Homo sapiens: one gene and its partner. The protein of the gene in region 2 purifies or fractionates together with the protein of the main gene of each other region. This does not show direct contact. Each region holds a gene or a part of one and is shown on either strand. Other genes may lie near its edges. The genes, in order: NSMCE4A and MAGEB1.

Region 1 (3,808 bases), on a different chromosome or scaffold from region 2:
TCTGCCCCCCCCAGGTTAAAGCTATTCTCCAGCTTCAGCCACCCGAGTAGCTGGGATTACAGGTGTGCACCACCATGCCCAGCTAATTTTTGATTCTTTAGTAGAGATGGGGTTTCACCACGTTGCCCAGGCTGGTCTCAAACTTTGGAGCTCAAAGTGATCCGCCTGCCTCGGCTTCCCAAAGTGTAGGGATTACAGGCATGAGCTGCTGTGCCCAGCCTGTTTCTGCATTAATTTAAATCTTTTTTTTCCATAGCTTTTCTTAAATCCCATGTCCTCTGTCAAGCCTTTTTTGAGTATCCGTCCTCGGGTCACTACCTGCTACCTGTAGACTGTTCATTTGGGTGGCTTTGCTGGGGTTGCCTGTGAAGCCATACAGAGGCATGAGCCTCCTAGTGCCAGCCTAGCACATGCCATGATTTTGGTTAGCAACTTTAGCAACTTACCTATTGCTTAGCAGCTTACCTATTGCTGTTCACAAACCACCATGCCAAGCACAGGGCCCTACATGTAGTGGGAATTTGATTTTCCTTACGTCAGCACACATGATCATCGTGATTAGGATGGAGGGAAAAGTGAGTATTAGACATGACGGGTTTTGCTCAACTGGAGTTATTTAAGAGATTGTGATTCAGCTAACAGTAGGAGAACTAGACAGAAAGCTGGCTTTTAGGAAGACTGGTCAGCTTTCATTAGAGATTTTGGTGAGTTGGGCACAGGAGAAAGTTTTTTTTTGTTTTTGTTTTTGTTTTGAGACAGCCTCTTGCTCTGACACCCAGGCTGGAGTGCAGTGGCGCGATCTTGGCTTACTGCAAGCTCTGCCTCCCGGGTTCACGCCATTCTGCCTCAGCCTCCCAAGTAGCTGGGACTACAGGCGCCCGCCACCACGCCCTGCTAATTTTTTGTATTTTTAGTAGAGCTGGGGTTTCACCGTGTTAGCCAGGATGGTCTCGATCTCCTGACCTCGTGATCCGCCCGCCTTGGCCTCCCAAAGTGCTGGGATTACAGGCTTGAGCCACCGCACCTGGCCAGGAGCACGTTTTAGAAGGAGATGTGTCAGTTGCCTATTGAGATTTTTTTTTTTTTTTAGTCCAGTGGGAAATCCTGGTAAGTAGTTGGAAATGTAGGGAAAAAGTCTATGGATAATGTGTATTTTGTAATGTGAATATTTTCTTTCTTTTTTGAATAGTGTCCCGAGCAAGAGAAGCAGTCCTGGATGCCCACTTTCTTGTTTTGGCTTCAGATTTGGGCAAAGAGAAAGCAAAGCAGCTGCGCTCAGACCTGAGCTCCTTTGACATGTTAAGATATGTTGAAACTCTAGTAAGTTCAAAGCTACAGACTCTGAATAAAAAATGTTCTGTTATATATTATAATTATTTACTGTGCTCATATCCATATGCAGATGATTTCACTTCATTCTTCTTTTTTGGTCTCAGATTCCTCTGTAGAGATCTTACCAATTTAAACAGACGAAAGTAGAACCATGTGGTGGAATCTTGGGTGGGGGCTTGGAGTAAAAATCTCGTAGCATTCTGTCTTAAGATGCTGGGTGCTATGGTCATTTGCCAATGGCCATTTTTCCTCTGTTCACTGGTGTTCTAGATCATTCTCAGTGACCTCAGACCTTTGTCCTGGGCTGGACAAAAGCCCACTCTGCGATGGCAGAGCTCAGCTGGAATTGAGTTAGGCCTGGCGAGAGGGCATGTTTTGGTCTGTCTTTGAGAATATTTCAAAACCATGTGAATATGATTGGGTTTTGCTTTTTTTTTTTTTTTTTTTTTTCCTTTGAGACAGAGTCTCGCTCTGTCGCCCAGGCTGGAGTGCAGTGGCGTGATCTCGGCTCACTGCAAGCTCTGCCTCCTGGGTTCACGCCATTCTCCTGTCTCAGCCTCCCAAGTAGCTGGGACTACAGGCGCCTGCCACCACGCCCGGCTAATTTTTTGTATTTTTAGTAGAGACGGGGTTTCATCATGTTAGCCAGGATGGTCTGGATCTCCTGATCTCGTGATCTGCCCGCCTTGGCTTCCCAAAGTGCTGGGATTACAGCCGTGAGCCACCTAGCCCAGCCAGGTTTTGCTTTTTTGGTTTTATGTTTTATTCACCTTTCTTTGTCTCTTGACAAGTTTGAATAGTGGTTACCTGCAATTCTAAAACTGTTCCTTGATGAATTTACCAAAAAAGAAAAAGCACACAGAGACTGACCTTGTATCTCACTTTGTTGTCTTTTTAAAAAATTCTATTCTGGCTGGGGGCAGTGGCTCACGCCTGTAATCCCAGCACTTTGGGAGGCTGAGGCGGGTGGATCACCTGAGGTCAGAAGTTTCAGACCAGCCTGGCCACCATGGTGAAAGCCCGTCTCTACTAAAAATAGAAAAATTAGCTGGGTGTGGTGGCAGGCGCCTGTAATCCCAGCTACTCGGGAGGCTAAGGCAGGATAATCCCTTGAACCCAGGAGGCAGAAGTTGCAGTGAGCCGAGATCGCGCCACTGCACTCCAGCCTGGGCTACAGAGTGAGACTGCACCTCAAAATCAATCAATCAATCAGTCAATCTGTCAATCTGAGCCAACCTCTGTCCTAGCACAGATAGCTGCACCTCAGTATGAATATTGCATTTCTAACTGGATGTTTATGTTAAATGGTTATTAAAATAATTTAGTACTATGAGATCTGATCAGATAATTTTTTTGTAAAGGCATGAGGCACCAGATTATTTCCAGTTTGTTTTTCAAACCTTTTCCTTTTTTTTTTTTTTTTTTAACTTTTTTTTATTGTGAAACATAATGCACTTAGGAAAGTGCACTGTAATATAGAGGTCAATAAAGTAACCATGTATTGGGTATTTCTTTAAAAATTACTTTATCAGGTTAAGCTCTATTTTTTTATTTTTTGAGACAGAGTCTTGCTCTTGTTGCCCAGGCTGGAGTGTTGCCCATGCTGGAGTGTTGCCCAGGCTGGAGTGCAGTGGCACGATCTCAGCTCACCGCAACCTCCACCTCCTGGGTTCAAGCGATTCTCCTGCCTCAGCCTCCCAAGAAGCTGGCATTACAGGTGCCTGTCCCCACGCCTGGCTAATTTTTAGTAGAGGTGGGGTTTCGCCATGTTGGCCAGGCTGGCCTCGAACTCCTGACTTCGTGATCCACCCGCCTGGACTTCCCAAAGTGCTGGGATTACAGGCATGAGCCACCGTGCCCGGCCAAGCTCTGTACTTTAAATAACATATCAAAATAAATTCTGGAAGTCTTAAAGCATTAAATATAAAACCTTAAATTAATAGTTGTCCAGTCTCTGGGTGGAGAAGACTTTCGTATGTATAGCATCAAATATAGACACTATAAGGAAAGATTGGTGGATTTCTCTGTCAGTTAAACAGACCAAAACTGCCACGTCTGCCTACAAGGGTGCAGTGGTAGTTCGGGCGGCAAGGGAATGGAGAAGAGCTGGCCATAGCGCTCTGACCAGGCTCTTGTAGCCTTTCTTTTCTTTAAAGTCTGATTGCCTTTAATAGGGTTAAGCTCCCTGAGGGTTTTGTGATTATTGTTTATATATGATATTGCCATCGTAATTGGATAACTTCTAGGCATTTTACAGTATAATGTAATAAAAATGTACTTTCATAAAAGTAAATTCAATATAACACATTTTCTGTAAGACAGTTTGAGATGAGAGAATTATTTGACTTCCGCCAACTCTTCCCAGGAAGGCAATTTTAAGATGAGCCATTCTCTCAGTGATGCCGGGCCACTGCTCTCTGGATATACTGAGATACAAGCTGAATAGAGATTTGTAGGAGGTTGGCAAAAAATTAAA
Region 2 (4,414 bases):
CACTGCTTCAACCTACCATCCTTACCGGGGGCTGGGCGGGATGGCAGTGCTGACAGTTCTATGGAACTCTCTCTGTCCTGGGCTAGTTGGACCTCAATCTTAATTCAGAGTCCTCATCTCATCTATATCTAAGTTCTGGGAACCTGTCTTCTGCTAACTGGTGCTGCATCTTCAGACCAAAGCTGTCACCTCCCTTAGACCTGATGCAAAGAAATAAAGTCTCAGCCTGGCAACCCTTGGCCAAGGCCTTTCAGAGCTAAGTGCAGAGACAGGGCTAGCATCGTTGTTTTTCCTCTATTTGGGGTGGGGGTTGGGGGCTTGGGGGAATGGTGCCTTCAGTCCACACTCACACTTCGACTCCCAGAAGGGCCTAGGGCTCTGTTCTCTCTACACCTGAGGACATTTACTCATAGTAAGGCCTACATCTGCCTGAGACCCAATGGAGGAAATGAGGGTGGCTGTATCTGGTCACAATGCCCATATTCTCCAGAGGCTGAAAGCTGTGGCTGGCAGGTTGAAGCCCTGTGATGTGTAGCCCCACTCATGGTCCTCACTCAAGGTCTCCAGTTTGACTCCTGGGAGGGCCTAAAATGCCTCCCACCCCTCCTGCTAACCCATCTGACTAAGACCTTCATTTCCCTGTTACTTCTGAAGAGGAATTTAGGGGCATTTCTGACATTTATGCTCGGGGCTTCCTAGCGCTGACATACAGAGGGACTCTGAGGGATCCCCACTGATGAGGTGGGAGTTCCCTCAAGTCCTCTCTATGAGGCCTGGCACAACCTGGAAATCCTCTCTCTACTGACCTGAGGCCCCTTACATCAGATTAAGATTCTCATTGCCTCATAGTCCCAAGATGAAAGAAAGCCTGAATCACATCCAGTCACCACGTCCTCTATGGGGCTCCACTGTTCTGGGGTCGTTGTTCTCTTTAGTCTTCACTCAAGCAGAGTCTGAGCTCCTCTCTAATCCCACTTGATTCTTCCAGGCTCATACAAAAGCCTTCACCTCTCTGAGTACCCAGGGCTAGTCTTGAGGGGATGACACATCTGGGTACTTCTGCCTGGGGTTTCCCAGAGCTGAGAGGGGGTAGAACTTGGTGAAGCCCCACTCTCTAGGTAAATGCTCATCTCATTCCTCCCTCAGTGACTTCTCTGTCTTGATCTAACGCCTATCCAGTCATACAAAGCACCCCCCGACAACTCCCTGAGGAAGAAGTGAAACTTTTCCCATCTGGCTACAATTGTCCATCATCTCCCAAGGATGAAAATCAGGAAGGAATTCCGTGTTTCTTTCACTGTTATGGGATGAGTGGTTCCCCCAGTTCTCAGGGTCTTCTTTTTGACTCCTGGAATTACCTAGGAATCCTCTAGCTGCTAACATAAGGCTGCCCCCTTTGATGAAGTTCCCCACTTCCCTGAGATGCTCTAGGAAGAAGTGAGTGAGACTCATCATGTCACCATACCTGGATCTCCCAGGTCTCAGTGGGGATAGGGCTCTATCTGTGTTACCTCTTTCTTGGAGGGGGTCCCCTCATACTCCCTCAGTGTCACCATCTTTTAGGAACTGGGCCTCCTCCCTGTACTAAACAAGGGCTTTCATGTTAAACCAAAGCCATTATGTACCTGAAACAGTACCTGAAGGAAATGAGGGGCATCTCAACTTGAGAGTTCTAACCCTGGCTTCTAAGGAATGAACGCCAAGGTAAGACTGTGTTCCTGCCTGTTCTGGACTAGACGGTTACCTCATTCCTCATAAAGAAATTGTACCTTGACACCTGTCTTGGCGTATGACTCCTATCTCTCTACTGAACTGGGGCAGTGAGGCCTTAAACCAAGGCCCTCCTCTCTCTAAGACTATGAAGGCAGAAGCCAGGGAGTACTTGAGCCTGCCAGCTCTGGCCTGGGACTCCCAGGGACAGCATCAGGCGCAATTGTCTCCCTCGTGTATAGAGTAGCCGCCATTTCCTCACTCAGTGTCTCCACCTCCACTCAGCACTCTTTCTGGGACTCCACCCATCAACTGCTCCTAACACCATGCCCCGTAGACAAAAGTTCTCATATTCCTTGGACCTAAGTTCACAGTCATAGTGGGCCACATCCCACCAAGGCTGACTGGGGCCTGCGTGTGCCGACAGCAGGAGCGGGACTTTTTTTTTTTTTTTTTTTTTTTCTTGAGACTGAGTCTCGCTCTGTCACCCAGGCTGGAGTGCAGTGGTGCAATCTCGGCTCACTGTAAGCTCCGCTTCCCGGGTTCACGCCATTCTCCTGCCTCAGCCTCCTGAGTAGCTGGGACTACAGCAGCCCACCACCACGCCTGGCTAATTTTTTCTATTTTTAGTAGAGACGGGGTTTCACCGTGTTAGCCAGGATGGTCTTGATATCCTGACCTCGTGATCCGCCTGCCTCGGCCTCCCAGAGTTCTGGGATTACGGGTAGTAGGGTTTAGGACTCCTCCCTCTATTGACCTGAGTCTATAAGGCTTAGGCCAAAGCCTTCGTCTCCCTGAGTCGCTGAAGAGACAGTCAGGGTGCTACCCATCTGGTTACCTGAGGCCTCCCAGGACCAAATGCAGAAGCGGGACTTAGAGGGGACCTCTTTGTTACGGGTGGGGGTGGTCTCTTCAATTTACACTCAGGGTCCTCACCTTGACTCCCGACCAGTCCTGAGAATTCACCCTCCGCTGACCAGACGCTGCACCCCACTCCTTAAGCTCGCTCGGGTCCTCGCCTTCAAAAGGGAAATGAGGATGAGCCACATCCGGCAGCCCAGGGCCTCTGAGGGCTGACGGCAGAGGCAGGACGCTACGGGACGTCACTGTTCTAGTGTCGCTGGTCCCTACGTCCCCACTAGGGTTCCTCACCTTAGTATCTAGCAGCCTGGGACGACTTCCGCCTGCTGACCCAAATCCGCCAGGCGGACACTGCGCCCTTACGCTCGCTGGGGTCCTCGCCTTCAAAGCGGAAGTCAGGATGAGCCACATCCGGCAGCCCGTGGCCTCCGGGCTGACGGCAGGGGTGGTACGCTTCTGGACGTAACTGTTCTAGCGTCGCTGGTCCCTACGTCCCCACTAGGGGTCCTCACCTTAGTATCTAGCAGTCTGGGACGACTCCGCCTGCTGACCCAAATCCGCCAGCCTCAAACAATAGCCCCACCTCTCTCAGCCCCCAAGGTGGAAATCTGAGCGTGCCACACAGGCCACCCCTGCCTGGGCCTCACAGGCCTGACAGCAGCGGCAGGGCTCTGTGAAAGTCCCGTTTTGGGCAGAGGCCTTCTCATCAGCTCTCAGAGTCCTCACCGTGACTCTGGTTTCCTCTCCAGGCAGAACTGAAGCTACTCCCTTCAGGCCCCACGCTCCCCATCCTCCATGAGACCTTCCAGGCGGAAATGAGAGGCACCTTAGGTAGATAGCTCTGTCTGATGCCTCAAAACGGGGTGAATTCTGTGGGGACTCATCTGCTGGTGGAGTCCCCTCTTAACACTTAAAAGCCCTACATTGATTCTTGTTAGGGTCTCGGCCTCTTCGCTCTGTAAAACTGAGGCTGCCCCAATTAGACGGAACCAGTCATCTCCCTGAGACTTTCCAGGCAGAATTCAGCCTGCCATCTCCGCCAAGGCTTCCTAGGGCTGACAGCAGAGGGGACTTTGTGAGGCCATGTGGGTGCTAGCTACCCTTAGTCCACATTCAGGTCCTCACCTTGACAAGTGAGCAAACCTGTAACTTACCCTTTGTTTACCTGAACCTGCTCCTCTCACATCAAGGTCCTGTTTTCTGAGAATTTCGAGTTGTACTCCTGGATGATCTTCATATGATCACAGTCCTTTTGCAACCTGCAAAAACAGATAATAAGGAAAGGACTCCATAGAACCCCACAGTTTTGGCTGGGTCCTTCCATCAGTCTTCATTTATGCTCCTCGCCTTTACATGTATCAGAACCTGGGACTCCTCTATCTACTGAACTGAGGTCACTCTCCTGAGGGTCTGGATGAACCCTTACATTTTGGAGTGGTTTTCTCCCCACCATTCATTCATGAGGGTTCTCATGTTGGCTTCTGTCTCTTGATCAAACTCTTCCAGGGAAATGTCACATCCCTGCAAAAATTTGACCAGTTTCCTCTTTGCAAACCTTGCAGAGAAGAGGTCCCTGTCCCAGAAGTGATGTGATGTTGGGAAACTGAAACGGAAGGTGGAGAGCCTAGGACAGATGTTGTGCTCTCAGGGAAAAAAACATGCTGATCTATTCCTTCACTTCACCAACCAAAGGGTAGTTCTAAAAGTTTTACTTTCTACAGAAAAGGGTGGAGCCAGATGATTTTTGTAATCTTTTGATCTTTTGAAGCTATCCAATTTTGCTTCTGTCGGTGATCATATTGTCACCGAGTATTATTTCTTTTTCTCTTTAATTCACATCTGT

What was found.
Region 1: the proteins of MAGEB1 (region 2) and NSMCE4A purify together in Homo sapiens (affinity purification with western blotting, with the first as the bait; one study listed by BioGRID). This does not show direct contact.

What each region holds. Positions count from the first base shown.
Region 1 is NC_000010.11:121,968,451-121,972,258, reverse strand, and holds part of NSMCE4A (non-structural maintenance of chromosomes element 4 homolog A), read left to right. Parts: intron 1-1,189; coding exon 1,190-1,320; intron 1,321-3,808. UniProt on the Homo sapiens protein: Component of the SMC5-SMC6 complex, a complex involved in DNA double-strand breaks by homologous recombination. The complex may promote sister chromatid homologous recombination by recruiting the SMC1-SMC3 cohesin complex to double-strand breaks.
Region 2 is NC_000023.11:30,245,705-30,250,118, reverse strand, and holds the start of MAGEB1 (melanoma-associated antigen B1), read right to left. Parts: upstream 2,974-4,414; 5' UTR 2,863-2,973; intron 2,730-2,862; exon of another isoform or gene 2,647-2,729; intron 1-2,646.